Homo sapiens: one gene and its partners. The protein of the gene in region 1 purifies or fractionates together with the protein of each later gene. This does not show direct contact. Each region holds a gene or a part of one and is shown on either strand. Other genes may lie near its edges.

Region 1 (7,021 bases):
AAAGTGCTGGGATTACAGGTGTGAACCACCGCGCCCAGCCAACAATTTTTAATAGAGGGCAGGGACTTCATAGACATCGGACCCACCTGATCTCGACAGAAGAAAGGACCAGGCTGAGAACTGCAGATATGACACAGAGAATCTTCTAGGTAGGGGTCAATCTGAACCTGCACAAAGGCAAAATAAGATGATGAAGTGGCTCTTCTTACCAGGAGGCTCGATAGGCGATAGAAGAAGGGCACATTATTGGCCACACACAGGAATGCGGGATATTGGAATGCAGGATATTTGCCTGTTTTAAAGGAGGCTTGGAGAGAATTATGGGCCTGAAGTACAGAAAGGAGTTCTAGAGGACAGACTCATACACCATGCACAGTCAGGCTGGATGCCTCTGGGATTCAGGCAACCACACACCTTAATGCCTGGTCTTCTAGGCAAACTGTACCTCAGCCCTCTATCAATTAGCAGTATAGGCAAGTGTTCGGAGGATTCCCAAAAGGTTGGAAAATAGGAAGTCAGGCTACTGAGCAATGCCAAAGAAATACCACAGTGAGGGAAGGCACCCTACACACTGAAGAGGCTCAACAGTCCCAGTTCCCTTCCTCCTGGGCGTACAAAGACCAAGCCCACTCCCAAACCCTAACCTCAATGTTAATTCTCAGGAATTTGGCTCACTTCCCTAAACACACCCAGCACAAACAGCTTCAGGTCTCAGGCCTGCCCTGGGTAGTAACTGCCCAAACCCCTCTCATATACCCCAGAGTAAGGGCATAAACCAGCCAACTCACCTTCTTTGTGAACTTGGTGGTTTTGATCTCCACAAAAGCAGCGCTGACTGCTTTCAGGTAACTCCGTTGGTTATTGAAAGTCACACGACCAGAACCTAGGACAACAGACACAAGCTTCCCTTCTAACCAAATTCTCCCAAATGCTACTTTTTTTTTTTTTTTTTTTTTTTTTGAGATGGAGTCTCGCTCTTTCGCCCAGGCTGGTGTGCAGTGGCGCAATCTCTGCTCACTGCAAGCTCTGCCTCCCGGTTTCACGCCATTCTCCTGCCTCAGCCTCCCGAGTAGCTGGGACTACAGGCATCTGCCACCACACCCAGCTAATTTTTTGTATTTTTAGTAGAGATCGGGTTTCACCATTAGCCAGCATGGTCTTGATCTCCTGACCTTGTGACCCGCCCGCCTCAGCCTCCCAAAGTGCTGGGATTACAGGCGTGAGCCACCGAGCCTGCCCTAATGCTACTCTTTTAAAATGCAGGAAACCCTTTACGATACTAGTGCTGTCCGACAGAAATATAATGTGAGCTACTATGTAACTTTATTTATTTTTTGAGACAGGGTCTCCCTCTGTCACTCAGGCTGGAGTGTAATGGCGTGATCTCAGCTCACTGCAACCTCTGCATCCCAGGCTCAAACAATCTCCTGCCTCAGCCTCCCAAGTAGCTGGGACTACAAGCATGAGCCACCATGCCTGGCTAATTTTTGTATTTTTTTGTAGAGACAGGGTTTCACCATATTGTCCAGGCTGGTCTTGAACTCCTGGACTCAAACGATCTGCCCCACCTCGGCCTCCCAAAGTGCCAGGATTATAGGTATAAGCCATCATGGTCAGCCCTTATGTAACTTTAAATTTTCTAGTAGTCACACTGAAATTTTAAAACAGTGGTGACATTAATTTTAATAATATATTTTATTGGCCGGGCACGGTGGCTCACACCTGTAAACCCAGTGCTTTGGGAGGCCAAGGTGGGCGGATCATGAGGTCAAGAGATGGAGACCATCCTGGCTAACATGGTGAAACCCCGTCTCTACTAAAAATACAAAAATTAGCTGAGCGTGGTGGCGCACACCTGTAGTCCCAGCTACTCAGGAGGCTGAGGCAGGAGAATCACTTGAACCCAGGAGGCAGAGGTTGCAGTGAGCTGAGATAGCACCACTGCACTCCAGCACGGCAACAGAGTGAGACTCCATCTCAAAAAAAAAATTTTATTTAACCCTATATGTTAATAATATTATTTCCAAATGTGACAACAGCTGTGTTTCCAAAACTCAATGGGGCCACATTTAGCTGGTAGCTACCATATTCGTACCATATTTGACAGTGGAGATCATGTTAGCGTGAACCATTCAGGAATGGGGGAAGAATTTGCAGATCAAGATGGGAAGGAAAGATAAGGGACTCCTTCAGTGCAGGTAGAGCATAGGTTAAGGTTAAAGGATTCAGAGTGGAAGCCAAGATGCAGATAGAACACTTGTCTGAAGGGTAAGCCCAGCAGTTGAACTGAACCTCTCCTAGCCCTTAGGCACTCTGGAGACCTATTAAGAGAGCTGGAAGAAGCCCCATCCTGCCAAGTTCCTCCTCCGCTCCTGGGGCTTCTGAAGTCCCTGTTCTCAATCTGCTGCACAGTATTGGTGAGTACATGGTGCTCCTTCCTGACCAGATTCAGTGTGGGTGTGAAGACTAAGCATTTGGGGAGGTGGGTTAGCCACATGTTAATCACAGAGGTCAGGCTCTGCTCCACCTCCATACCTCATCATTGACATTTTGCCAGGACTGGCGAATTGACCTCCTTTCTCAGAGGAGCTGATCAAAACCTAGTGGTTAGGCCCACAGACTTCTGAGTTAGGAAAGCACAGGCCACACTCTGTTGCCTGACTCACTCAGAAAGTCCTCCTCCAGCCTGACCTGGTCTCTGACCTTAGACAATGCCAGAGCTTTTCAAGAACTTTTAATAAAAAACTCCAGGCAAGTTCAGAGAATTGCAGCCTTTTCATGAAATAGTACCTGTTGTCTGTTCCAAACTGGTTTCGCTGTGAACTCTGAGCTTCCAACAAAGTTCCTACCTCACTCTCACTTCTTATCACCTCCTGTAGTCTCCAATAGCTTTTTCTCCCACTGCGTGGGAGATGGTGGGTAGAGGGCTAGATACAGAAGGGCCAGTACTCGTGACTTGTCTAGAAAAAGATATTATGGTGCTGGTATATGCTGATCTGCAGACCTGGGTCAGGCCTCTCTCCTCACTCCCATGGGGAAGTATCACAATCTTGGTCTACTCCCAGGGGCCAACCAAGCTTTCGCACACAGAAGTGGGACACTTACCAATGGGATACTTGTGCTTATCTGTGTCAATCCCGGCATACACCACTCCACCAAATAGGTCGTTCAAGATGGCTGCCAGGGCCTCAGCATTTAGCATTCCATGCAGAGCACCGACAAACACCGTCCTGCTGGGGTCAAGCCTCTGAGATGGGCTCCGGACAAAGTTACTGTCGGCTAATACCCAGGGGATCACCTGCACCTGAAAACCACCCAAAGGTGTATCAGCCCTGGCAGAGAGCCACAGAGAGAGAGGTGCTTGCACGGCAAGGTACGTGCTCTGGAGATACTGAAGCTAAGCTAACGCCCTTACAGGGGTGAAAAGGTGCTGTTGCCCAATCTCAGGCACACAGGCGTCCAATAAACCACCCTGACTCCACCCCAACTGGAGTTGAATTTTACTGAGTCCATGTGTCCAGAATGGTAGAAGTGGACACAGTACTCACTCATGCTGGAGAGTAAGCAAAAAAGTACCACATGGCCAAACCCAGGAGCCCAGCATTCTATTTCAACCTCCAACTGTGTAGTTCCAACAAAGGGCTGTGGACACTGATGAAAAGGGCATAATCTGAAGTCCTCAAGAAAGGAAGGACTCACAGAGAAATTAAAGGCTAGGATCCTGAAGGACAGAGGGGTGGGAGTGCTTACGATATTTGTATGAGATGGTTACTGGCCCAACCTAGCCTTCAGAGGGTTTGTGCCAGAGCAGTGGAAATGACTGGCGAGAGGTTGGGTAGAAAGTCACATACAAGATCCCTGGAGTCTTAAAGGGCTGGGGCTGACCATGTCCTTTGCCTCTGAATCTCCTGAACCTGGAACAAAACCTTGTAGAGCAGGTGGAGGAGTCCAGAATGAAGTGAAGATCTAAAAATATGTCTTGAAGCAGGAAGAGATCTGAGGCAGAAACCAGCAAGGAGGCAAAAACAGTAGTTTCAAAGGACAGGTGATTAAGACTTGGACAAGGCTGGTGGCAACGAGCAGAGAACAGGCCAAGACCAAAGAGATTCTTCAACAGAAGAGTCTGCAGTACTCAGACAGCATAAGCAGGATGGGCAAGCAAGGAAGAATCAGGCCTGGTAGGTGCTGGGCCTACACGGTCTTGGGATGAGAGGACCTGGCAGAAGTTACAAGAGGGGAGCCAATTTCACTGGAAGATGAAAAAGCCAATTTTGCCCACAAAAGAGTTTGGGATTACAGGACATCCCGAAGAAGGATCCCACAGGAAGGTGAGGCTCAGGTAGGACATGAGGCTAGAAAGGTGAATCTGGGTCTAAAGGTGAGAGAAGCCACAAAGTGAGTCATTTATCTGAACTAGAAAAGAAGAAGGGAGTCAAAGATTGGCTATATTGGCTATGTTGGTGCTGGCGGGGAGAGGAACACAAAGGAAAAAGAAAAGTAGAGAGGAAGGAGAACTGCATCAGCCTATAGCCAGTGAATCAAAGAAAGATTAAATCCCTGTAAGGTGATGGGAGGGAATGGGAGACAGGATGGTGTCTACAGGGGCACTGAGGAGGAAGGGGAAGGGCTCTGTGATATGCATATGGCCATCTCTGGTTGTGAAAGCAGGAGGGGAGGAAAAAGGAGCATGTTAATTAAGTCCTAGAACATACTAAGGTGGGAAGACTACACAAGCTCCAGAGAATAAAGAAGCAGAGAAGGTAGGGAAGCTGTGGGTCACTGTGGGCAGCCAGAGGATGAGCCTGCCCTCTCTCTAACACAGAACAAGAGCCAGCTTTGTTACATGGATTTATTTTAAATCTAATGTGACCATCCCAATAAAATAGGCATTTCTCCTCTTACCCTATAGATTTTTTTAGAGAAGCTTTAAGGTTTACAGTAAATCTGAGCAGAAAGTACAGGGATTCTCCAAATACTCTCTGCCCCCACACTTGCGTGACTTCCCCACTATCAGGATCCCGCATGAGAGTGGAACATTTTTTTATACTGACCCATCATCCCCACCGAAAGTCCATGGTTTGCATCAGAGTTCACTCCTGGTGTTTCTTTTACCTTCTATGGGTTTGGACCAAAGTATAATGACATGTATCCACCATATACAGAATAGTTTCACTGCCCTAAAAATCCTCTGTGCTATGTCTCTTCATCCCTTCCTGCTAAACCCCTGGCAACCACTGATCTTTTTTACTAAAATAGGCATTTTAGTTTCCCATCTTATAGAAGAGAAGAGGAAACAAAGTTTCAGAGATATTAAATATCTAGTCCAATGTCACAAAAGTTGTGTGCTCTCAAATCCGATTTTACCACCGCACTGATTCCTGAGCTCAAAACTTGCTTTGACAAGTGGTTCTCAAACACTACCCACTAGAACCACCTGGGGATCTTTATTCAGTTGGAGATTCCTAAATTCCACCCAGAGTGATTCAGTAAGTCTGGGATAAGGCCCAAGAATGTGCAATGAGATCCCCAGGTGAGATAAACTCGTTAGAGACCCATGCTGCCAAGGATACATAAGGCTGATATTAGAAAAAGCGTAGGAAGAGAGAATCTTATGGGGAAAACCCACAAAACTAAATAAAGCCCTGAATAAGAATGAAGAAGTGACCCACAGGTGGGTGTGGGCTAAAGAGGAATTCACCCCCACAGACTGGGAGGTCACAAGGCACAGGAAGGGCAGGACCAGGGAAAAACAGCTGTAGGTTTATCAGTTAAGTCCAAGTAGAGAAGTTTGCTGTTCTCAATTTCATTTCTAAGACAAGAGGTTTGAAACCAAAGTGTTGGCTACAAGAAAGAAGAGCAGAATAAAGACGGGCAGACAGTTTGATTACCATGGGCAGGCATGCGCATGTGTGCATGCACACACCCCATTAAGTCCCAAAGGTTGCTTTTTTTTTTTTTTAATGTAATTGAGAGGATACTGCTATTTTATTGTGGGACAAGAAGAGCCTTCTTGCCTCAGCAGGAATACTCCTTGCCTGCAGCCTGCCTATCCACCTACCACAAGAAAATCCAGTGCCTCAATATTCCAAGACCCTCGATCCAGAAAGGACATCACGCTAACTCACCTCCTTGCAGCGCATCCTTCGGCTGGACATCTTGAAATAATATTCACTCAGGCCATCTGGGCTCAGCGGGTCATGAGAGCAAGCCTGAAGCAAGGATCGGACAGACTTCTCTAGTTCGAAGACCAGATACACATACCCTATTCCCAATGAGAGGAAAAATCGCATTAATATCCCTTAGGTGGCCACTCCTCAGCCTTGGCTTTGCAGCAGGGCGTTTCTTCCAAGAAAGAAGGTCTTGTGTATAAGATACATTTTTGTTTTACTCCTGAAAAGTCGTGTTGAGTGGAAGCATTTGCTATGCAGATGCCCTGGGTTGTGGGCCTCCCTCCCACCCTGGTGAAGGAAAGGACTGGCAAGCTGAGACAGAGGATCCCACCATTACCACAGCTCTCTATGCAAGAACACAGAGCATGTTCAGGTCAGCAGAGCCAGGCTTTCCTGGTGGCAGGAAAGATGGCAGGTATTGCTTTAAACACCTACTTAAACCATTAGTTCAGTTCAATGAAGATGGGGCAGGGTGAAAATAGCACCTGCTCCTTTCTACAGGGAAGGGATCTCATTTCAGACCAGTGAGGAATCAGATGCTTGGTCCTCATTCCTGCCAACTCCAAAGGGACTTCAGAATTAGGTCAGGCAACAACGTAACTGGGCAGGACAGGCAGGCAAGGGAAAGCTTTTCAAACGCCTTATTTTGAGAGGAAAGGTGCTGCTTGGGTTCAGGTTTAGAGAGAAGTGTACAAGGAAGGGGTTTCAGAGGCAACTCCCACTGCTGTGTAAGTCTGGACAGATGGAACATTAGCTCAGAAGAAACAGAGGGACATGTTAGGTTGAAGAGAAAGTGCTGACAGATGGCAGGTCTGTGCCCTGGAGTGCCCACCATGTTACCAACATGCAGC
Region 2 (7,996 bases), on another chromosome or scaffold:
ACATGTGAAGTAATCCCTTGTAAACAGAAAAATCTCAATTCTATTAGAATTTATTCCTTCAGCAAATATTTATTGGGCACCTACTGTGTGTCAGGCACTGTACTGGGTGCTGGGGTAGAATACATGATGAATTTGGATAGGAACAGTTACGACCTTCATGGAGTTTCATTACAATTTAATTAGTTCACCGGTTTCTGAGACACTTCTCTGAGTACTGTGTAAATATATAGAACCAACTCTGAAGCGTTATAAATACTGAGATGTTCTCTGACTCAGCAATTTGAAAGAGCCTAGACTTTTTTTTGGAAAGAAAACAGCTATATATAGATTTGGACAAATGAAAGATTTACCCAATAAAATATCTGAAGACTACCTTAAAATGAATCAGAAGAGACTGTCTCAAACAAATGAATGTTTATGACAAGTCGACTTGGTGTAATGGAAAAGCTTACAGGGCTGGAAAGCAGAAGATCTAGACCTTAGTCTGTTCTGCCCTGACTGGGTCACACCTATAACCTTGACTGAGTCATTTGCTCATCTGTACTTTGGTTTTCTCTTCAATAAGATAAATCCGTTGGACTTGATATTTGCTAAAGAATTTTCAAACTGTTAATATTTTCTTTGCATTATTTCTCTTACTGGACTCTCTAAGTAGTTTTTAGGAAATAAAAGCCCAACCCCCCAAGTGGATTCCTCTCTTGAGGGCACATTTTTCAAAGCAAAAGAAAGCTTTTTTTTCCCTTTTTGCAAAAAGACATTGCTTTCTTGTTTTTTTAATGATTGTAAAAAATTATGCATGATCAGTACAGAAAATAGAAATCGAGGAAAATACAGAGTAAAAGCTTCTATAATAACACTGAGACAACTATACTTTCACCATCACTGTATCTGTAGCAGGTATCGTACAGCAGGTGCTTTAAAAACAGTTGTTGAATGAATGATTACTGTTAATATCTTGCAAACATCCTTTTTGGTCTTCAGACCAAAAACGAATACATAAATAAATCCTTTCTCTGGGTTGTTTCACCTCTAAACCAGAAGAGCTCAGTAAAGCCACCAGAGACTAAAGCTGTTAGGACAATATCAAATCTCTTACATTGTAATATGTTTCACAATGACAGTTGATATCTGATGCCTATGGAATATAAGGAAACAATAACATTTAATCCATCATTCTGATAGGCACAATATCAAGGGTGGCTCAGTTTGAGCAATATCAAGAAGGCTGCAAAACAGTCCACAGTACTTCAGCTCAAGCAAGAGTGGCTCCGGCAGCACTGGGAGAGTTGGCTCTGCCTCCTGAATCCTTCTTCCCACACTTGGGCCCTCTTCCTTGCCCACAGCACCAGGAGGAGCTTTCTGGGGCATGTGAATTCCACTCAACACATTTTATTGGCAACCTAGCAGCCATTTGATTGTCGACTACATTTTCAGTAAACTAATCGTTTCCTGATTACCTCTGAACATGAATTACAGCCAGATCTTGTCTGTAGACCCATGCTACATTTTTTCCTCCAAATGGAATTAGTTGCTAATGTTGAAAATCCGGAATATTCAACATGTAAAGTCTGAATTGTCAGAATCTCTTAAAAAGTTGTTAGATCCACCACCACTGGGCCCCTATCGCACAGAGCAATCAATCAGAGCTGAGGAGCATGTGCTCTTCAGCTCCCATAAGCCCACCTACTCCTATTGTCTGACATCCCACATCCCACAGTTTGCTTTGCTAATTTACCTGATACGCTCCTGCTAATTATGTAAAACATTCATGGGGTACCTACTACACATCAGGCACTGTGTAAGTCCTGGGAACATAGGCAGATAAGGCAAAGCCCCTGCCTTGGAGGAGCTCACAACCCAGCAGTGGAAATGACTTACAAACCAGTAAATTACAGTACAGTATGGTGAGTACAGCACAGCAGCAGGAGCATGCAGAGGACTGACCCACTCTGTCCTGGGAAGCCAGCTCAAGATTTCCTGAAGGCCATGGTTAAGCTGGGTTTTGAAGGATGAATAAGAGTTCACCAGGCCAATGGAGTGGTGGGGAATACTAGCAACAGTGTGGGTGGTATTAAAAATATATATAAAGTCTTCTTCTGCTTAGCTGCCTGTTGCACAGATGATCCTCTCAAGCCAGCAACTACCTTTCTCTTGATGGTCATTCCATTTCCTCCTTCTATCAAAACAACAGGGAAGGTTCACCTTTATCTGGAAGAGCCTGCCTGACAAATCCCCATTCACCTCCAGTTACTTCAACTAAGGCAACCTTCCTACTCGGATAATTGGTTACCTGACTGTGATCCTACTATTGGAGCTCTTTGTTTTGGAACCTCTGATATTTAAAGAATAGACTAGCACAATAAGCAATTAATAAGTACTTATCAAATATTTACATTGTGTAGAGAACTCTCCCTGGTTTTTGACTTTAAAAATGGCAAACACAAATTAACTAAGAACAGATAGAGAATACAGTTCAGAAAACATTTATTTATTTTATTTTTTATTTTTTTTGAGACAGAGTCTTGCTCTGTCACCCAGGCTGGAGTGCAATGGCGTGATCTCGGCTCACTGCAACCTCTGCCTCCCGGGCTCAAGTGATTCTCCTGCCTCAGCCTCCTGAGCAGTGGGGATTACAGGTGCCTGCCACCACACCTAGCTAATTTTTGTATTTTTAGTAGAGACGGCGTTTTACCATGTTGGCCAGGCTGGTCTCGAACTTCTGACCTCGTGATCCGCCCATCTCGGCCTCCCAAGAAACATTTATTAAGTGTCTGATATTCAGGTGTTTTTCTTTTTTTTAATCCCTCCATCCATCCAACATTCAGTTAGCACTATTACGCACCAAGTACTGTGCTTGGTACCTGGAAATCATGCTGAGCTACAATAAACATAGTATAGCAGGTGACATGGATAAATAAACCCATTATAAAAAGTTTCTTGCTCGAGCAATGTTCAAAATACAGCAACTGCTTGGAGAAAGGAATGTCAGCTGCTCACAGGGATACTGGGTAGGTATCATGGAGAAGATAAGTCCAAGCTGCTTGTCTTGTGTGTTTCTTACCTTTTTAAATATATTTTTCGGCCGGGTGTGGTGGCTTATGCCTGTAATTCCAGTACTTTGGGAAGCCAAGGTGGGCGGATCACAAGGTCAGGAGTTCGATACCAGCCTGGCCAACATGGTAAAACCCCATCTCTACTAAAGATGCAAAAGTTAGCCAGGCATGGTGGCACATGCCTGTAGTCCCAGCTACTTGGGAGGCTGAGGCAGGAGAACCACTTGAACCCGGGAGGCGGAGGTTGCAGTGAACAGAGATTGCACAACTGCACTCCAGCCTGGGCAATAGAGGGAGACTCCATCTCAAAAAAAAAAAAGAAAGAAGAAAATATTTTTCAACATCCACAAAAATATAGAAACAGTACAATGAATCTCCACATCCCCATTAAACATCCACAACAATATAGAGACAGTACAACGAATCTCCACATCCCCATTACGTGGCTTTAACAATTAGTAACTTGCGGCCACTTTTGACTCATCTACACTCCCATCTGCTTCCCCATCCCTTTGTTTTGTTTTGAAGCAAATCCTAGACATCTTTATCATTGCATCCGGGAACACTGAGCTGCATTTACAGAAGAAAGTGGAAATGCATGTGTCTTCCACAGCCGTACCCTCCCCATCTATTCTGCCCTGAAAACAGTTAGATACTCGGATTCCTGCCAGTGACTCCAAAGCCTTGGCTGGTTCAGGGTAAATACCCAAGACTTTATTGGAGCCTTTCAGTTGGTTGAAGGACAGTGAAAATTCCATCCTGTCTTGCCTGGAATGCTAGCCACATTCTTCTGGTCCGGAGTCCTCATACAATTGCTAATTTTTTAGAGGCTTATGGAGTCCCTAACGTTTGCACAAAATGGTTGCTACATTCCACACTCCCATGTGCCCTGAGCAACCTCCAGGGAAACTTCAGATACCGTGGGGCTTGGCCTGCCAGCTGAGCTGACCCAGCGATCCTTTCTATCACAGCTTTGATCTTCACTGGGTTGGGAGCCTGTCTGAATCTAAACATCTGCCTCTCTACTGCCCACCCCTTCAGCATTTCCTAGCTCTCCCTGAAAGGTGCAAACATGCATGCAGTTACTCAAACAGAATATTTATCCTTAACTCCCTCTCCCTCACAATTTCTTTTAAAACAATCCACTATTGTCTACCCCCGCCCCCGCATCACCCTTTCATCCAGGTGCCCATTCCCTTCTCTCTAGTCCTGCAATACCTAAGCATCGATCTGCCTTTAGCACATCCATCCCCGCCTTATTCTCCACGCAGGAGCTGAGTGACCTGCACAAAATCCCCTGCTAAATACGGTACTTCCATGGTTCTTCACCACTGCAGAAACCAAACTCCTTCCCACACCAAGGAGGCCCTGCAAAATTTAAGGCCTCCTTCGGACTTCTCCAGCTTCATCTGCTACATCTCCTTCCTAGCCCGCAACCAAAACCATCTTTTCCGGGTCTGTTTTCTCGGGTTTTTGTCCTCTCACCTGGGCAGCTCCTTTTCTCTCATAAATAAAGAAAGCTACAGCGACTTCGCCCTTGCTTCCATGCATCATCTCATGAGTCCACAACAACACTAAGAATTCGCTTTCATTTTGCAGACGGAGAAACTGAGGATGGGCACCTTACCCATGGCCACAGAGCTAGTAAGTGGAACAGCTGCAACCAGGATTCAAACTCGCGGCTCCAGAGGCCACAGGCTTAACCACGGAATCCTAGCCCGCCCGCACATCCCTCCATCGCGGGAGCGACCTATCTCATCCGTAGACACCTTCCGCTGCACCCAGCCGCAGCTGGTCAGGCGGGCGGAGGAAGGAGGCTTCTGATTGGCCATCTCCAGCAGCGGAGGCGAGAAGGCGGGGAGCGACGGTGCGGGGGCGTCGCGGAGAAATGACTTCATGACGCGGCTTCTTAAAGGCGCCGGCCCAGCGCGCCGCGGATAGCACAGGCACGTCCCGGGGGCTCCAGCTTCTGCTCAGAGCGCGGAGAGCCGGGCCGGGCGGGCGCGCGCGCAGGACTCGGGCCGCTCGAGGGGTCCGGCCGGACGGTGTCGGGAGCCGGACCCGTCGGCAGAGGAGCGGGCGCCGCGATGGCTGAGGGCAGTGCCGTGTCTGACCCTCAGCACGCCGCGCGTCTGCTGCGAGCGCTCAGCTCTTTCCGCGAGGAGTCTCGCTTCTGCGACGCGCACCTGGTCCTCGACGGGGAGGAGATCCCGGTGCAGAAGAACATCCTGGCGGCGGCCAGCCCGTACATCAGGTGGGGAGGGGGCTACGGCGGGCGGGCGCGGCGGTGCTGCCCGGAGCCGGAGGCGGGGCGGCCGGGCCGGGCGTGGCCCCCAGACCCTGTCCCCTGTCCCCGGCGCCGGGGTCCCCGCGTCACCGTTGGCGCGGCGTCCCTCCCGGCAAGCGCCGGAACCCGGCCCCGCTGACCGCGTCCCCCAGGCGGCCTCTGTGGCTTCCAGGCCCGCGCTCCCCACTGGACCCCCGCGCCCCTTGGAGTTGTCCCCGGACCCGGGCCGCGATCCCCCGCCTTGTCCCTCCCGGTTCCCACCGCCGCGGCGAGCGCCCGACCTCGGAGACCCTGAGGCCCCCAGACGCCGTCCTGGGCCGGCCGGGACCCGCACCTGCGGGCTGGGCGAGGCCGCGCCGGGGAAGAGTCACCCCCTCGCCCAGGCCGGGCCCGCGGTCCCCGCTGAAGTTCGCCAGTCGCTCGCCTCTGAATCCACGCGCGGGGGCTGGGCCGGCGCCGCCAACCAGGCGGGGAGCGCCCTGCCCGCTGGGAGGCCAGACAGACAGCGCCTCGCTGGGTGCAGGCAGAGAAAACCCTCTCGATGTTCTCCTTGGGTTGGTAGTCCGAACCTCCGGGCGAAATTCTCCTTGCCAAACGTGTCTTTTCCGCTCCATTCTGGTAACTGTTTAAAAGAGGAGTTACACGTTGAAGTAAACTGTAGCGAATTCTCAGGATGCTGTTACAACCCGAGGACCGTGAGAGCCTTGCGACAAAGGGCATTTTAATACTTTAGTAAAGCAAAGCTTAACCTGATTTGCCAACTCAACTAACCAGGTTAATTAAAAGGTTGATAAGACAGTGCTTATACAAGTGTATCAGATCTTGCAGGAGACTATCTTTTCTTTTAGCAACCTTCTTGCAAACTAGGTTGCTGTTTTAATAAAAGGAAAGGGGGGAATGCTAAAAACTGGAGAAACTGACCAGTAAGCTGGTTAAATATAAGCTAGTGGTAGAGAATATCACTACAATTGACAGGTCAGAAAAAGCAAAATGATGTGTATTCTTAGCGCTTTGTCCCAGCAAAACCACCACGCACGCTACACTTTTAACCTTTGCATTGGGGAGATATCTGTGCTAAACTTAGAAGAAATTCAAGTGCCCTTGTAACTTCTGGTTTCTCTTGGATTTGTTTTGTGAATCCATTTGCGCTCTTTGGCGGTGGGGAGTGTGGAGGGGTGGGGGGGCGGGGCGGCAGTAGGGTCTGGGGTAGCATCGTTAGTACAGAATTTGGATTGCTAATGTGACAGACAGCTTCTAGCTGGCAGTTCCGAGGTTTGAGCAACCCATCCCAAATTGGAGTCAGCAGACCAAAGTCTTCCCTGTTTGGGAAAATGCTGAAGAAAACTACTTTAGATGCATTATTGTTATAGTTCTTTAAATGGCATCCGTTTGGCTTAAAAGAAGTAAATTGCAAATTGCCGAATCCTTGCTTGTTATCCTTGTTCGTTTTTCTCCATAGCACTTACCACTTTGACGTACCCCATATTTTACACATTTACTTTGGTGGTCTTTCCCAACCACAGTGTGACCTCAATGAGGTCGTGGTGTTTTGTTTTGTTTTTCGAGACTGAGTTTCACTCTTTAGCCCAGGCTAGAGTGCAGTGGCGTGATCTCGGCCCACTGCAACCTCCGCCTTCCAGTTTCAAGCGATTCTCCTGCCTCAGCCTCCCGAGTAGCTGGGATTACAAACGCCCGCCACCACGCCCGGATAATTTTTGTATTTTTAGTAGAGTCGGGGTTTTACCATGTTGGCCAGGCTGGTCTCGAACTCCTCACCTCGTGATCCGCCCACCTCGGCCTCCCAAAGTGCTGGGATTACAGGCGTGAGCCGTGGCACCCGGCGGTGTTTTCTTTTATTCACTGCTTTACTCTTTGCACCCAGAAAGAACTGTGCCTATCAGTTAATGTATTGAATGAATGACTGCCTTTCTTTCTACCACAGCAAATGTGTACATTAGAAAATTGGCACCATCACATTTTCATAGTACACAGACGCTCAGTTATACCTAATTGAGAAACGCACTGGATTCAGAGTTTGAAGACCCGCTTTGTGCTTCCAGCTTTTACTCATATTAGCTGTGAGTTGCTGGTAGATGACAAGGCTTCAGCTCACTAATCTGATGAATGAGGGATAAAAATGAGTCTTCTCATTTAATCACACCTGTGAAGAAATACGTAATAGTGTTGACACCTCATAGGTCTGTTCCCATGTCTTCAAAGGTAGTACCCATTGAATTAGGAAATATCTGTAGTCCGGTTCTTTCACTTTCTAAATAAGAAAATAGGGGCTCAGTGGACATTAGTGACTTGTGTTATGAGGTTATTAGTACTTAATGGTTGAACTAGGATTAGACTCCAAATTAATTACGGCTAACCGCCTTCCTACTCTTGCCCTACCACGTTAGAGCATTACTTGTATTTCACCGTTCTCTTTGTGTAAACTTTACTGTTAGCTGGCTTACAATATCTTAGAATTAAAATGTTTATCAAGCACTTTTACATACTGTGTCATTTTGGTTTCCATTTTCAATCATCTTTAAAGAGAAGGCAGATTTTTTTTTTTTATGTTTTGTGGATAAACATGAATCAGTCAATATGTGTTTCATCAGTGACAGATGAATTGCTTTAAGTTTATTTGGCTATTGAAGTGATAGAA
Region 3 (7,704 bases), on another chromosome or scaffold:
TCTTACATGCCTGTATTGTATAGCAGTGGAATCTTGGCTTTTACTGTATCCATCACCCATATAGTGAACATCGTACCTAATAGGTAACTTTTCAACCCTCTCCCCACTTCTACCTACCCATCTTCTGTAGTCTCCAATGTCTATTATTTATAGAAACCAAATTGAAATACATTGCTGCTGCAGCTAGGGATGGCCCCCAAAAATATTGTTGTGAAATGTTCTCTGTGGACAGATTTTAAACAGTTAACAGGTAAGCAATTTTGTGTAAAGGAAGAAGTGGCCTGAAGTAAGGCTATATACAGAATCTTGAGCAGTGGAGAATGGTTTATGTAGTTGGCCTTGGCACAATTGTAGGATCAGAAATAAACAGGTCTGTAGGTAAATCTATAGGAATAAGTGCATAAAGTGTGTGGATCTTTATGTCTTAAGTCAATGTCAACCAGAGTATATAGGTTTTAGAGAGACACTGAACAAACCAGGTGGCTAAAATGACTTATCCAGTAGATTTGAGCCAGGCTTTATCCTCAGCTACCTAGTGTTTGCACAGAACAGATACGGTAGCAGGGATGAAATCTTTGCATGGACCCATCAACCTGGGCTTCCTCTCACCAAGGCCAATCTCACTACACGTTAAATATTGGCCCAAAGACAACAAAAATTGACACTGAGCCTTCAGTATAATACCACCCTTCAAGAAGACCAACCAGACCACTAGATGTCAAGGTGATCAAATCAGTCCTTTTGCACCTTGGAGGAGTCTGTGATTTTTTTTTTTTTTTACTGAAATTGACATAAATTCTGGGTATGGATATTCCCCTGTTGAGAGTGGTTCAGCCAGCACCTATTCGAGGACTTGCAGTGTCTGTTTAAATGTCCTAAAATCCTACTAAACATCAGCTTAGAGAAAGTTTTGAAAGTTTTACTTTACAGTAAAGAGGCACAACAATGCGAATGTAACCATGGAATCCACTAGTCCTTATACATCATCTAAAAGCTGCCAGCCTAACAAAACTGGAATGGCCAGTAGAGACCATTGTGGGGTTGGGGACTGTCATTCAATATGCAGTATATAATTGGATAACTAAAGGATATTATATGCTAGCTGGAATATATGAGCCTGGGAACCAAAGCGTTAAAGTAGGAGTATTCTCCGTTGAATTATTTGTGAATTTGTGATCCATTGTCTAGTCTGCTGGACTAGAGGGCCAGTTCTCAGGGTGAAGTTAAGCAGTTTTTCTACCAGGGGTCATAGTAAAGTTCTACTAAATCTGAAACTATAGCTGCCACCTGGTCATTTTATGAATTTCATGTTTGTAGACAAGCCAGCAGGCAATTAAAAGGATTGATCTACTGGCAAGCTTAAATGATTATGGTTTCTGTGAGGAAATAGTACATAATGGAAGCAGGGAGGAGTATGGCTGGCACTCAAAGGATTCCCTGGGATACTCTTGGTGCTTGCATGGCCTGTTAAGATGCACTGGAAGTAACTACAGCCTTATTAAAGCACAGAAATAGGTCTTCTGGTTTCTCAGAAATGAAGAAATGTTTCTCTCCACTGAGAAGGCAACCTAGACAAGGAGAACTCCTGATCAAGTATGAGCAAAACCTAGAATGGGTAATAGAGGAGAAGATCTTGAATATCAGTTAGGATCACAAAATCAGTTGCAGCAAAGAGGACTATAGCTTAGACTTTCCTATTGTGTGTGTGTGTGTGTGTGTGTATATATATATATTTAAACTAACGACCAGCCACAAAATTGAAGAAGCCATTAAGGAAAGGTTGATCTTTGCATAAGATAGGGGCAATATGGATGGGATACCCACAACATCTGTGAAGGCCATCTCCCTTTATCACTCAACCTTGCACATTCCAATGGCATCTCACTGCAAACATCAGAGATCCTTCATCTAAGCATTTTTTCTCAGCCCACACGTGGGCCAGGTCAGGAGTGCAAGGGGGTTATGCTTTCAGGACCAGTCTTTATCCAGAAATGAAAGGAAGTTGGAAGAAAAGTACCCCAGGTTTCTAACCCACCCAAGAGGGAAATTGGAGGCAGATTTTACATTGTTTCCTAGAGTTACCTGAGGAGATCTAACTCCTGGTTCCCACAACAAAACCTGCTAGATATGTTCCCAGTCACTGGCTTCATTCCGTTCCAGTTTTCACTTTCCCACTGTCCTACCCCGTTTCTTATGAGCACCTTCAAAATAAATATCCCTTGCTCACAAATCCTTGTCTAGGAACTAAAGCTCCAAAAATACTGCCTAACAGCCACTCTGTTCATTGTAAAATAAAGATAGAAAAAAAATTGTCTTGTAGGATTGAAACCAGGATAATATGAGATATTTAGTGTCCAGATCTTAGAATCCATTTATTAAAAAGGGACAATAATAATGATGATTATTATGATGATTCACTCAACAAACACAAAAGGACTACAATAAAGTGCTTGGGTTTCAGTCTTAAGATCCATTTATTAGTAGCTCTGTGATTTTGGGCAAGTTACTAAATCTCCCTGTGTCTTAGCTTTTGTAAAATTGGGAGAAAGCATTTGTTGGGAGAATTAAAATAGAATAATCCACACAAAGTAGTGAAACCTGTCCAGGGCATTACAAATGTCTAATAAATAATATCCTTGTTATCATTCATCATGTACTAAGTGCCAAAAACTTTGTCCTTGCCTGTGAGTTAAAGTTCTCAGCTACTGAACCTACTGCGAAAGTAATAAACTTAGTCCTGTGTGAGCAGCTCTAACATTTCACAACAATAGACCTCAAAAATCATATGAGCTCTTCCCCTGGCCTACTCCCAAACTGGAGATGAATGTCAACGTATTTCAAGCTAGGTTTGAAATACCACATACTTTGAACAACTGTGAAAGATCTCAAATTTCTCTTCTAGTAACAACAACAATGGAAGCAGGGAGGAGTATGGCTGGCACTGAAAGGATTCTCTGCAGTTTCTAGGAAACATGCAGTTTCAAAGAAGTCAGGTCAAATACATCCAGCCTATCTACACTAGGTAACAGTTGGGCAATTCCCTTTGTCATCTGGCTTAGTCACTGAATTTCCTTTTTGGTTTCTATTTCCTACAGAGAACTTTCAAAAATCCCCCTTTCTGTTATTCCATATTTTGTATTCAAATTGTCTCCTTTTTCGAGCAGGGAAAATGGGGTGGGAAGAACAAAAACCCCAGGACTGAGTGAAGAAAATAAATGAGAAATCACCACAGTGAAAGTAAAAGACGAGAGTTCGAACTCAGCAAGTTCTCATCGAAGCAGCTTTCTTTTTTCTTTTCTTTTCTTTTTTTTTTTTTTTTTGAGACAGAGTCTCGCTCTGTCACCCAGGCTGAAGTGCAGTGGTGCAGTCTCGGCTCACTGCAAGCTCCGCCTCCCAGGTTCAAGCCATTCTCCTGCCTCAGCCTCCCGAGTAGCTGGGACCACAGGCGCCCGCCACCATGCCCAGGTAATTTTTTGTATATTTTTAGTAGAGACGGGGTTTCATCGTGTTAGCCAGGATGGTCTAGATCTCCTGACCTCGTCATCCACCCGCCTCGGCCACCCAACATGCTGGGATTACAGGCGTGAGCCACCGTGCCCAGTCCCTCATGGAAGCAGTTTTCTTACTAGCTCTAAAATACCTCTTCTCCCGATTTTATAATCAAGGTAATGAGAGGTGACGGCGTGCTGGCAGCCCTTGCAGCCCTCCCTCGCTCTCGGTGCCTCCTCTGCCTGGGCACCCACTCTGGCGGCACTTGAGGAGCCCTTCAGCCCTCCGCTGCACTGTGGGAGCCCCTTCCTGGGCTGGCCGAGGCCGGAGCTGGCTCCCTCAGCTTGCTGGGAGGTGTGGAGGGAGAGGCAGGGGTGGGAACTGGGGCTGCGCCCGGTGCTTGAGGGCCAGCGCGAGTTCTGGGTGGGCTTGGGCTCTGAGGGACCTGCACTCGGAGCGGCCCCAGGCAGTGAGGGGCTTAGCACCTGGGCCAGCAGCTGCTGTGCTCCACTTCTTGCAGGGCCTTAGCTGCCTCCCGGTGGGGCAGGGCTGGGGACCTGCAGCCTGCCATGCCTGAGCCTCCTCCCCTCTCCCGCTCCCCACCTCACCCCGCCATGGGTTCCTGTGCTGCCTGAGCCTCCCCAACCTGTGCTGACCCCTGCTCCACAGCACCCTGTCCCATCCATGGCCCAAGGACCGAGGAGTGCCAGTGCATGGAGCAGGACTGGCAGGCAGCTCCACCTGCCGCCCGGTGCAAGATCCACTGGGTGAAGCCAGCTGGGCTCTTGAGTCTAGTGGGAACTTGGAGAATCTTTATGTCTAGCTAAGGGATTGTAAATACACCAATCAGCACTCTGTATCTATTTAATCTGGTGGGGACTTGGAGAATCTTTATGTCTAGCTAAGGGATTGTAAATGCACCAATCAGCACTCTGTATCTACCTCAAGGTTTGTAAATGCACCAATCAGCACTCTGTATCTAGCTCAAGGTTTGTAAATAGGCCAATCCACACTCTGTATCTAGCTAATCTAGTGGGGACATGAAGAACTTTTGTGTCCAGCTCAGGGATTGTAAACACACCAATCAGCACCCTGTCAAAACAGACCAATCAGCTCTCTGTAAAATGGACCAATCGGCTCTCTGTAAAATGGACCCATCAGCAGGATGTGGGTGGGGCCAGATAAGAGAAGTAGCCAGCAGTGGCAACCCACTGAGGTCACCCTCCAGGCTGTGGAACCTTTGTTCTTTCACTCTTTGCAATAAATCTTGCTGCTGCTCACTCTTTGGGTCCACACTGCCTTTATGAGCTGTAACACTCACTGGGAATGTCTGCAGCTTCACTCCTGAAGCCAGCGAGACCACGAACCCACCAGGAGGAACAAACAACTCCAGACGCGCAGCCTTAAGAGCTGTAACACTCACCGCGAAGGTCTGCAGCTTCACTCCTGAGCCAGCCAGACCACGAACCCACCAGAAGGAAGAAACTCCAAACACATCCGAACATCAGAAGGAGCAAACTCCTGACACGCCACCTTTAAGAACCGTGACACTCAACGCTAGGGTCCGCGGCTTCATTCTTGAAGTCAGTGAGACCAAGAACCCACCAATTCCGGACACGGTAAGACTGGGGCAAGAGGTGGAAGAGATTTGCAAGATTCATTTGGTTTTAGAAACATTCTACAAAGGATAGGATGCAGCTTATCCTGATGTGGTATATCAGACCTCAGTAAAGAATAAATTGTATTCTTATCAGACAGGCAGCAGAATTCATCAAGTACCAGCTGTGTCTGCCTCTTGCTGAATTAGACATCAATGTGTGTGGTGACTAAACTAAGAGTTTGAAATGCCTTCAAATTATTTTTCTTCCTTTGCAATTTTATGACTTATTCAGGATCATAATTTCCACTTAAGTTACCTTCGTCCTTCATAAAATCTGATTAAACTGACTCGAACTTCAGCATGAAAGTTTCAAAAACTATGATAGCTATTATTTTCATGAGAAAGAACAATGAATATGATGCAATGTAAGTAGCTTGCAAACATTAAGGACAAGAAAAAAATGTTGCCCAGAGAGAAGTTTCATGAAAACAGTGATGTATTTTTAGTCATAGTCTTGTACTTTGTTTGAAAGTAGATTTCTTCCTTTAGCAATAGCCCTGACTTAATTCATGTTGGTTTCTTGGCATCTACTCACTTAACTAACCCCTTTTGTGTTGGGTTCTGCTTCTACTACTCTATTGCCTTTACTATTATGAATCACCTAATTTAACAGTTGCCCAACTGGATCCCTCAATACTGTCTGGCAACTGTTCACTCGTTGAAATTCTCTCCTTTGAATTTCTTACCATGACACATACTTCAAGCATTTTGTACTAGTTTGATTTCCATTTATATCCTTAATAAGAGCCTTTTCCTTTTCCTTGAAATTCAAACCAGAAACTATGCAAAATAAGCAAAAGCAAGCAATAACAACTACATATACAAATGCAGGCGCAAAACCCAAACTAGAATCATATGGCTGAAAACAGATGTTTTCTTTCAGAAATCCTTCCACTACCACTTCTGAGCATTTTCTCTTAGTATTTTTTTTTGGGCATTTTCCTTCTTTGCACTTTTTAAAATCTCCTGCAGCTCGCTCACTCTCTTTCATAAGCCAGCAGTTATACTGATGTTAATAAATAGTTGTTTATTTACTTTTGCTTTTTTAGAAAACAAGCTGAAAGAATTGAGTGAAATGCCAGAGAGATACAGATAGCCAGTTGTAGGGCTGGGGTTGGAAATCAAGTCTAATTTAAGGCAAGGGCAAAATGTGCATTTTGTGTGTGTATTTTGAACCATTCTTGCATTGTTTTTATTTGCAAAGGTTATAGGGCTCAAGCAGTTAGGGAGAATGCATCCCAGAACACTAAGTTATGAATAACAGAGCAACAGTTATGTTTGTGGCTTGAACACATTAAATCTGCAATAATGTTTTAGAAATTTGGCTTTACTAAAAGCATTAAAGATGCTATCCAGATGACATTGGGGACAACATGTCAAATACTATTATTAATGTAGATATACAATGCTATTGTCATTCATAAGAGAGTCTGAACACTCAGACACATTCATTCCCTCTTCCTTAGTGACATCATCCCAAATCATAAGATCTTGTAAGCTCTCAATATCTGCTTATAGATTTGGCTTATGTATCTTTTGTTTTTCTAGCTAATTGTTGTAGATCATCACTTCAAGGTGCCCATATCTTTCTAGTGGAAAAATTATTCTGGCCTCCGCTGCATACAAATCAGGCAACCAGAATTCTACATATATAAGGTACTAATACTACATTGAAAATAGATTAGAATGAGAAGAGACCTGCCATTTGAGTCTCTAAATTTGTTGCAAAATTGCCTCTTTCTGGGTCAGGCTTGCACTAGGCATTTCCTGACTCCCATGTCCTAGTGCTACACCATTTGCAAATGGATATCCTATTTTCTGCTGCCAAGCAGTTTCTGTTTTAATTTATGTCAACATAATGATTTCCAGGGCATTAGCTATGAGGAAGCAGGGAGAATGGGTCTTCATAATTGTAAAATGACAGTTTTTGAAATTTGCTAGTAAAGAGATGGAGAATCCAAACCTTTTCATTGTAAGATTTTAGTGAAAGAACTCGTCAAGCGGATAGTGAAGTTTTAGCATCCTTAGTAAATAACCACCTTTAAAATGGAAGAAAACTATCCTTTATGATAAGGCAAAGTAGAAAAGCATATTTTTATGGCATTTGCTTTTTCTCATATAGCTCAAACATTTTTTTTAACCAGAGACTCTTTAGGTTATAGGGATTGATGCTCAGAAGTTAGAAAAAAATAGGTTAAGTATTATTAAAGGAAGTTGTTTTACTCATTCAGTCAATCATAAAATAATCATGCTTTGAAGTTTTGGTTTAATAAAGCACATTAGTAACTATGTAAAAAATTTCAAGTATATCACTAAGAAGCAAACAGCTATGATTTGTTAGATAATGCTGCATAATGACTTGGTAGTATTTAATGTAATGCAGTTTGACTGGACATAGATCTAACTGAAAAAAATGAAGTTGACACAAAGTAAAAGGAACAGTGTAATATATTAATAAAGAACATCATAAAGAATTAATATAGGAACCCAGGGAGGTAAAAACTAAAAAACATAACTAAGCCAAAAACCAATGGAATAAGAGTTAGATTCAAACT
Region 4 (7,021 bases), on another chromosome or scaffold:
GCACCAGGTGCATCCACTCCACCTCGGAGGTGGGGCTACTCCACAAGGCTACAGGCTGATGAAGGAGCCGAACGGGTTCTCACACAGGAATGCTAACCCTGCCAGTCTCTGAACTCCAACTGCCTCCTGCTCTGAACCATGCCCAGCCCAAGTGTCCCATGTCGTCTTCTGCCTTTGCACACACTTCTGTGCCCTCAGCTTGACATGCTCTCCCTCTCTTGGCTGGGCACGGTGGCTCGTGCCTGTAATCCCAGCAGTTTGCGGGGGCCAAGGAGGGTGGACCACTTGAGCTCACGAGTTTGAGACCAGCCTGGTCAACATGGTGAAACGCGTCTCTACTAAAAATACAAAAATTAGCCAGGCATGGTGGCAGGTGCCTGTAATCTCAGCTACTCAAGAGGCTGAGGCAGGAGTTGCAGTGAGAGCCAGGATCGTGCCATGGCACTCCAGCCTGGGCAACAGAGCAAGACTCTGCCTCAAAAAAAAAAAAAAAAGAGATGCTCTGCCTCTCTCATTTGGTACACTTCTCTCCTTTTATCCTCCATGGCTTGGTTCAAAAGTCCTCCCTGACTCCCCATCCCTAGGCTGGGTCAGGAGCTCCCTCTGGGCTCCCAGAGCCCCCCTGGGCTCCCTTCTCCATCCCAGCCCTGCCCACACTGGGTCATCATTGCCTGGTGACAGGAATGTCTGCCCCACTGGACTGGACACTGGCAGAGAAGAAATGCAATGATGAAGAGTGTAGGATTTGGAGCTGGAATCCAGGATTCAATTACTAGTTCAGCCAGCTCCCAGCAGAGTGACCCTGGGCTAATAATTTAAGCCCCGGGGTCTGCTTCTTTCTGTATAAAACAGGGATGAAACTACCCTGCCTTACAGAGCTTTCATGAGAACTAGAAGAGCAGAGGCCTGCACTGAGCACTGTGGCCGGCACACACTGAGTGTGTAAATGTGGACACTGGTGTTACTGCAAGTGTCTTTCTCAGGTTCCCAGCCTCCTCCCTTTCACCTGCTCAGCCCAGGATGCCCCCCGGGCCCTCACCTGTTTGAGCACTGTGATCTTTGAGTCATTGGTGATCAGCGCCGCCTGGTTCAGAAGATCCACCACCTGGAAGGAGGGGGAGTGGCAGGGGATAGTGCCAGCCCAGTCCAGCCCAGTGCAGCCCCCTCGGCACTCCCAGGGCTCTGCCACCTAAACAGGGATTGCCAAAGCCAGGGGCTATGCTTCCTCACTCCAAGCCCTACCCGCCACGCTCACCCTCTCTGAGGTGGTCATGCCATCGATGCCCGGCCCCTCCTCTTGAGTGAAAAACTGTGATGCCACGCTCCGACGGGTGACGCTGTCTCCACTGCCGCTCGCCATGGCTGCTGTCAGCTTGTCCCCAGGAAAGAAGAGGATGGATCAAGCTCAGGGAACCAGCGGATGGGCTGGGCTGGATTGTCACCCGAACACCTACAAAGGGCCCAAGCCTCCTTCCCAGGCTGTTCCTCCCCAGTCAGGCCTTCTCAAGTCCCTCTCCCCTCCAGGGTCTGTCTCTGGCTTATGGATATGTGCACGGGGCCTGTAACTTGGGGGAGACTGACATCTCCCAAGGCAGAGCCAGAAGTCTCAGCCTCAAGTGGGCCAACCACAAACAGCTGCTGAACGATGGGCCACATGAACGTGCAACAGCCACCTTGCAGGTCTCCGTGTGTCCCCTCTCTCCATCTGGGATATGCTTTGGACTGGGCACCACAGCAAACTTTCTTTTTTTTTTTTTTTTGAGATGAAGTCTTGCTCTGTCACCCAGGTTGGAGTGTGGTGGTGCGATCTCAGCTCACTGCAACCTCTGCCTCCCAGGTTCAAGTGATTCTCCTGCCTCAGCCTCCCAAGTAACTGGGATTACGGGCACATGCCACCATGCCCAGCTAATTTTTGTATTTTCAGTAGAGACAGGGTTTCACCATGTTGGCCAGGCTGGTGTCAAACTCCTGACCTCAGGTGTTCCACCTGCCTCGGCCTCCCAAAGTGCAGGGATTACAGGCGTGAACCACAGTGCCTGGCCCAGAGTAAACTTTTAAAAACACAGCTCTGAGGAATATCAGGCACAGAGTCCGGCACATAGTAGGCACTCAATACATCACAAAAGGCCTGCTTCAATAATTATGTTTCAGCCACTCTCTGGAATATCATGAAGCTGTTTTTAAAAGGGAGGAAGGGGGCTTTCAGGCATCCATCACAGTCACACAGGCAAAATTATGGAATGATTAACGTAGCAGTATATGTCAATTACACAACTATTCATAATAGCAAAAGACTAGAAGCAACTCAAGTGTTCTCAAATAGGGAGACTGGCTGAAAAAAAGTTCATACATAATCAAAGGCCATGGGGCTTCAACACCTGTGAAAGTAAGTGAAAAACATATAAATATAAATAAAGGAAAAAGACTATGGAACTGTAACAAGAAAGGAAGAAAAAAACAAAAAAATGAGAACAATCTCTAGACACTGATAGAGAGTGCATACATTAAGTGAAAACAAGCAAAGCTGAAGACAGTGTTGACTGTATGTTTCTGTTTTACAAAAAAAAAAGAAAAATGAGGCCAGGTGCAGTGGCTCATGCCTGTACTCCCAACACTTTGGGAGGCTGAGGCAGGCAGATCGCTTGAGCCTAGGAGTCGGAGAGCAGCCTGGGCAACATGGTGTAACCCTATCTCTACAGAAAATATAAAAATTAGCTGGGCATGGTGGCGTGCCTGGTAGTCCCAGCTACTCAGGGAGGTGAAGGCAGAGGCTGTAGTGAGCCAAGATCGGGCCACTGCCCTCCAGCCTGGGCAGCAGAGTGAGAACTTGACTCAAAAAAAAGAAAGGGGAAAAAATATATATGTTAAAAAAGGAAAAAAATCTGAAAGGATAAACCAAAAACCAGCAGAGGAAACAGGGTAAAAAAAATTGGTGAAGCCGGGCGCGGTGGCTCACGCCTGTAATCCCAACACTTTGGGAGGCCGAAACGGGTGGATCGTCTGAGGTTAGGAGTTTGAGACCAGCCTGGCCAACATGGTGAAACCCCATCTCTAGTAAAAATACAACAGTTAGCTGAGCCTATAATCCCAGCTACTCAGGAGGCTGAGGCAGAAGAATCGCTTGAACCCAGGAGGCGGAGGTTGCAGTGAGCCGAGATCATGCCACTGCACTCCAGTCTGGGACATAAAGACAGACTCCATCTCAAAAAAAAAAGGTGAATCTCAGTATATTATCCTGAAAAGAGGTCCCTGACAGCCTGTTGCATCAGAGGACAATACATGCAGTTCAAGCCATTTTTGTCAAGTATGTGTTTATGTATACGCAGAATGACCTGAGGCAAGACATTTAACTTCTCTGGCTCTCAGTTTCCTCTTCTAGGAAACAGGGATAGTAACAGGGCTTACCTCCCAAGACTATTTTGAGGATTAAATGAGTTAGTATATACAGTAAACATTGGCTAAGTATACTATTATTTTTATGTACATGGGAAAAGATCTGAAGGCTACTGCATAAACTGCTAACAACAATTATGATAATTAATAATAATTTGGCCAGCTCACGCCTGTAATCCCAGGATTTTGGGAGGCTAAGGTGGGAGGATCAATTGAGCTCAGGAGGTGGAGGATGCAGTGAGCTGTGATCCCTACCACTGCATTCCAGCCTGCGGACAGAGCAACACCCTGTCTCAGAAACAAACAGGCCAGGTGCAGTGGCTCACATCTGTAATCCCAGCACCTTGGGAGGCTGAGGTAGGCAGAACACCTGAGGTCAGGAGTTCGAGACCAGACTGGCCAACATGGAGAAACACTGTTCCCTACTAAAAACATACAAATTAGACAGGCATGGTGGCGCATACCTATAATCCCACCTACTTGGGAGGCTGAGGTGGGAGAATCACTTGAACCTGGGAGGCAGAGGCTGCAGTGAGCTGAGATCACGCCACTGCACTCCAGCCTGGACGAGAATGAGACTGTCTTAAAAACAAAACAAGGCTGGGTGCGGTGGCTCACACGTGTAATCCCAGCACTTTGGGAGGCCAAGGCGGACGGATCACGGAGGTCAGGAGATCGAGACCATCCTGGCTAACAAGGTGAAACCCCGTCTCTTCTAAAAATACAAAAAAATATGCCGGGCATGGTGGCGGGCGCCTGTATTCCCAGCTACTCGGGAGGCTGAGGCAGGAGAATGGCATGAACCCGGGAAGCGGAACTTGCAGTGAGCTGAGATCACAACACTGTACTCGAGCCTGGGCGACAGAGTGAGACTCTGTCTCAAAAAAAAAAAAAAAAAAAAAAAAACACACACTAAACAAACAAACATGCCAAAAAAACAATAATCTGAGGACGGTGAAAATGATACTTTTTTCTTTTTTTGAGATGGAGTCTTGCACTGTCGCCCAGGCTGGAGTGCAGTGGCGTGATCGTGGCTCACTGCAAGCTCCGCCTCCTGGGTTCACACCATTCTCCTGCCTCAGCCTCCCCAGTAGCTGGGACTACAGGCGCCTGCCACCACGCCCGGCTAATTTTTTGTATTTTTAGTAGAGACGGGGTTTCACCATGTTAGCCAGGATGGTCTCGATCTCCTGACCTCGTGATCCGCCCGCCTTGGCCTCCCAAAGTGCTGGGATTACAGGCGTGAGCCACCGCAACCAGCCGAAAATACTTTTTTTTTTTTTTTTTTAGATGGAATTTCACTCTTGTTTCCCAGGCTGGAGTGTAATGGCACAATCTCAGCTCACCGCAACCTCCACCCTCCCAGGTTCAAGCAATTCTCCTGCCTCATCTCCCAAGTAGCTGGGATTACAGGTATGTGCCACCACATCCAGCTAATTTTTGTATTTTTAGTAGAGACGAAGTTTTACCATGTTGGTCAGGCTGGTCTCGAACTCCTGACCTCAGGTGATCTGCCCACCTTGGCCTCCCAAATTGCTGGGATTACAGGTGTGAGCCACAGCGCCCAGCCGAAAATGACACGTTTTTTAAAAGGAACTACCCAATAGCTATTCACAGTAGTATCACATGATAGGGGTCTCCTCAATGAATGACGAGCCACAGCCTCCTCCCTAGTTTCCCTGCTGCCTGTCACCCCCTATCTTGCTCAGGGTCAGGGCCAATGTCCCCATCAAGGCCTACAAGATTTTATGGCATCTGGCCTGTTCTTCCTCTGACTGCCTCTCCCCCTGGGCTCTTTGCTCCACCCACTCTGGCCTCCTCGCTGTCCTGTGAACATGCCCAACATGCCCCTTCCTCAAAGACTTTGTGCCTCTCTTCCGTCTGCCTGGAATATTCCTCCTCCTAGATATCAGCACAACTCCTTCCCTCTTCATTTCCTTCAGGTCTCCACTCACATGTCTCTGCAGTAAGGTCTTCCCTGACGACTATGTTTCTTTTTTTTTTGAGACGGAGTTTCCCTCTTATTGCCCAGGCTGGAGTGCAATGGCGTGATCTCAGCTCACAGCAACCTCTGCCTCCCAAGTTCAAGCGATTCTCCTGCCTCAGCCTCCCTAGTAGCTGGGATTACAGGCATGTGCCACCACGCCTGGCTAATTTTGTATTTTTAGTAGAGACGGGGTTTCTCCATGTTGGTCAGGCTGATCTCGAACTCCCGACCTCAGGTGATTCGCCCGCCTTGGCCTCCCAAAGTGCTGGGATTACAGGCATGAGCCACCGCGCCCGGCCGACGACCATATTTCAAATTTTAACTTCCTCTCGATCCCCATCTGTGTTGCTTTTTCTCCATAGCATTTATCATCATCACACACTACATATTTATAAGTTCCACGAGGACAGTGATTTATTTATTTGAAATCATTTTTTGGTAGAAGCAGAGTTTCGCCATGTTGCCCAGGCTGGTCTTGAACTCCTGCACTCAAGCAATCCACCCTCCTTGGCCTCCCAAAGTGCTTGGGATCACAAGTCTCAGCCATCGCCCCCGGCCTAGAACAGGGATTTTGTTCCTTCACTTTTTATATTCCCAGCACGGAAGAGTGCTTGGCACCTAGCAGGAGCTCAATAAACATCTGCTGAATGAGTGAACACTACTGCCAAACGGCCTCCCCAATCACTGGGTTCAGTATTCCTGCCCTTTCACTCTTGAATCCTAATAGCTATACTTGTTCTACTTTTTCCCCCTTTCTCACTACTGCACTTGACAAGTCTTTAAAAAAAAAAAAAAAAAAGGGCATGGTGTGGTGGCTCACTCCTGTAATCCCAGCACTTTGGGAGGCCAAAGTGGACAGATCACTTGAGGCCAGGAGTTCAAGACCAGCCTGGCCAACATGGCAAAACCCAGTCTCTGCTAAAAATACAAAAAAATTACTTGGGCATGGAGATGGATGCCTGTAATCCCAGCTACTTGGGAGGCTGAGGCATGAGAATTACCTGAGCCTGGGAGGCAGACGTTGCAGCGAGCCGAGATTGCGCCACTGCACTCCAGCCTGGATGACAGAGCAAGACTCTGTCTCAAAAATAAAACAAAACAAAAACAAAGAAAGGAAAGAAAACAAAAATAGGACGGGTATAGTGGCTCACAATTGTAAACCCAGCATTTTGGTAGGTCTAGGTGGGAGGATGGCTTGAGGCCAGGAGTTCAGGACTAGCCTAGGCCTAAAAACTAAAAAAGAAGGCCAGGTGCAGGGGTTCATGCCTATAATCCCAACATTTTGGGAGGCTGAAGCAGGAAGAGTACTTGAGGCCAGGAGTTTGAAACCAGCCTGGGCAACACAGCGACACACCATCTCTAGACATATGCACAATTAGCTGGGCATCGATATCATGCCACTGCTCTCCAGCCTGGGAGACACGGTAAGACTCCATCTAAAAAAAAAAAAAAAAAAAAAAAAAAATTAGCCAGGCATGGTGCCATGAACCTTTAGTCCCAGCTACTCTGGAGGCTAAGGTGGGAGGATTGTTTGAGCCTGGTTGTAGTGAAGTATGATTGGGCCACCGTAGTCCAACCTGGGCAACAGAGCATGAACCTGATGAACCTGTTTCCAAAAAAAAAAAAGAAAAAATAATCAGT

What was found.
Region 2: the proteins of CPEB1 (region 1) and GAN purify together in Homo sapiens (affinity purification with mass spectrometry; 2 studies listed by BioGRID and IntAct, with this or other methods). This does not show direct contact.
Region 3: the proteins of CPEB1 (region 1) and GBP5 purify together in Homo sapiens (affinity purification with mass spectrometry; 2 studies listed by BioGRID and IntAct, with this or other methods). This does not show direct contact.
Region 4: the proteins of CPEB1 (region 1) and SYMPK purify together in Homo sapiens (affinity purification with mass spectrometry; 4 studies listed by BioGRID and IntAct, with this or other methods). This does not show direct contact.

The regions. Positions count from the first base shown.
Region 1 is NC_000015.10:82,546,355-82,553,375, forward strand, and holds part of CPEB1 (cytoplasmic polyadenylation element-binding protein 1), read right to left. Parts: intron 6,263-7,021; coding exon 6,126-6,262; intron 3,305-6,125; coding exon 3,106-3,304; intron 884-3,105; coding exon 789-883; intron 168-788; coding exon 87-167; intron 1-86.
Region 2 is NC_000016.10:81,309,974-81,317,969, forward strand, and holds the start of GAN (gigaxonin), read left to right. Parts: upstream 1-4,988; 5' UTR 4,989-5,140; coding exon 5,141-5,307; intron 5,308-7,996. UniProt on the Homo sapiens protein: Probable cytoskeletal component that directly or indirectly plays an important role in neurofilament architecture.
Region 3 is NC_000001.11:89,269,856-89,277,559, reverse strand, and holds the start of GBP5 (guanylate-binding protein 5), read left to right. Parts: upstream 1-4,699; 5' UTR 4,700-5,108; intron 5,109-6,697; 5' UTR 6,698-6,805; intron 6,806-7,704.
Region 4 is NC_000019.10:45,853,136-45,860,156, forward strand, and holds part of SYMPK (symplekin), read right to left. Parts: intron 1,373-7,021; 5' UTR 1,361-1,372; coding exon 1,256-1,360; intron 1,106-1,255; coding exon 1,040-1,105; intron 1-1,039. UniProt on the Homo sapiens protein: Scaffold protein that functions as a component of a multimolecular complex involved in histone mRNA 3'-end processing. Specific component of the tight junction (TJ) plaque, but might not be an exclusively junctional component. May have a house-keeping rule.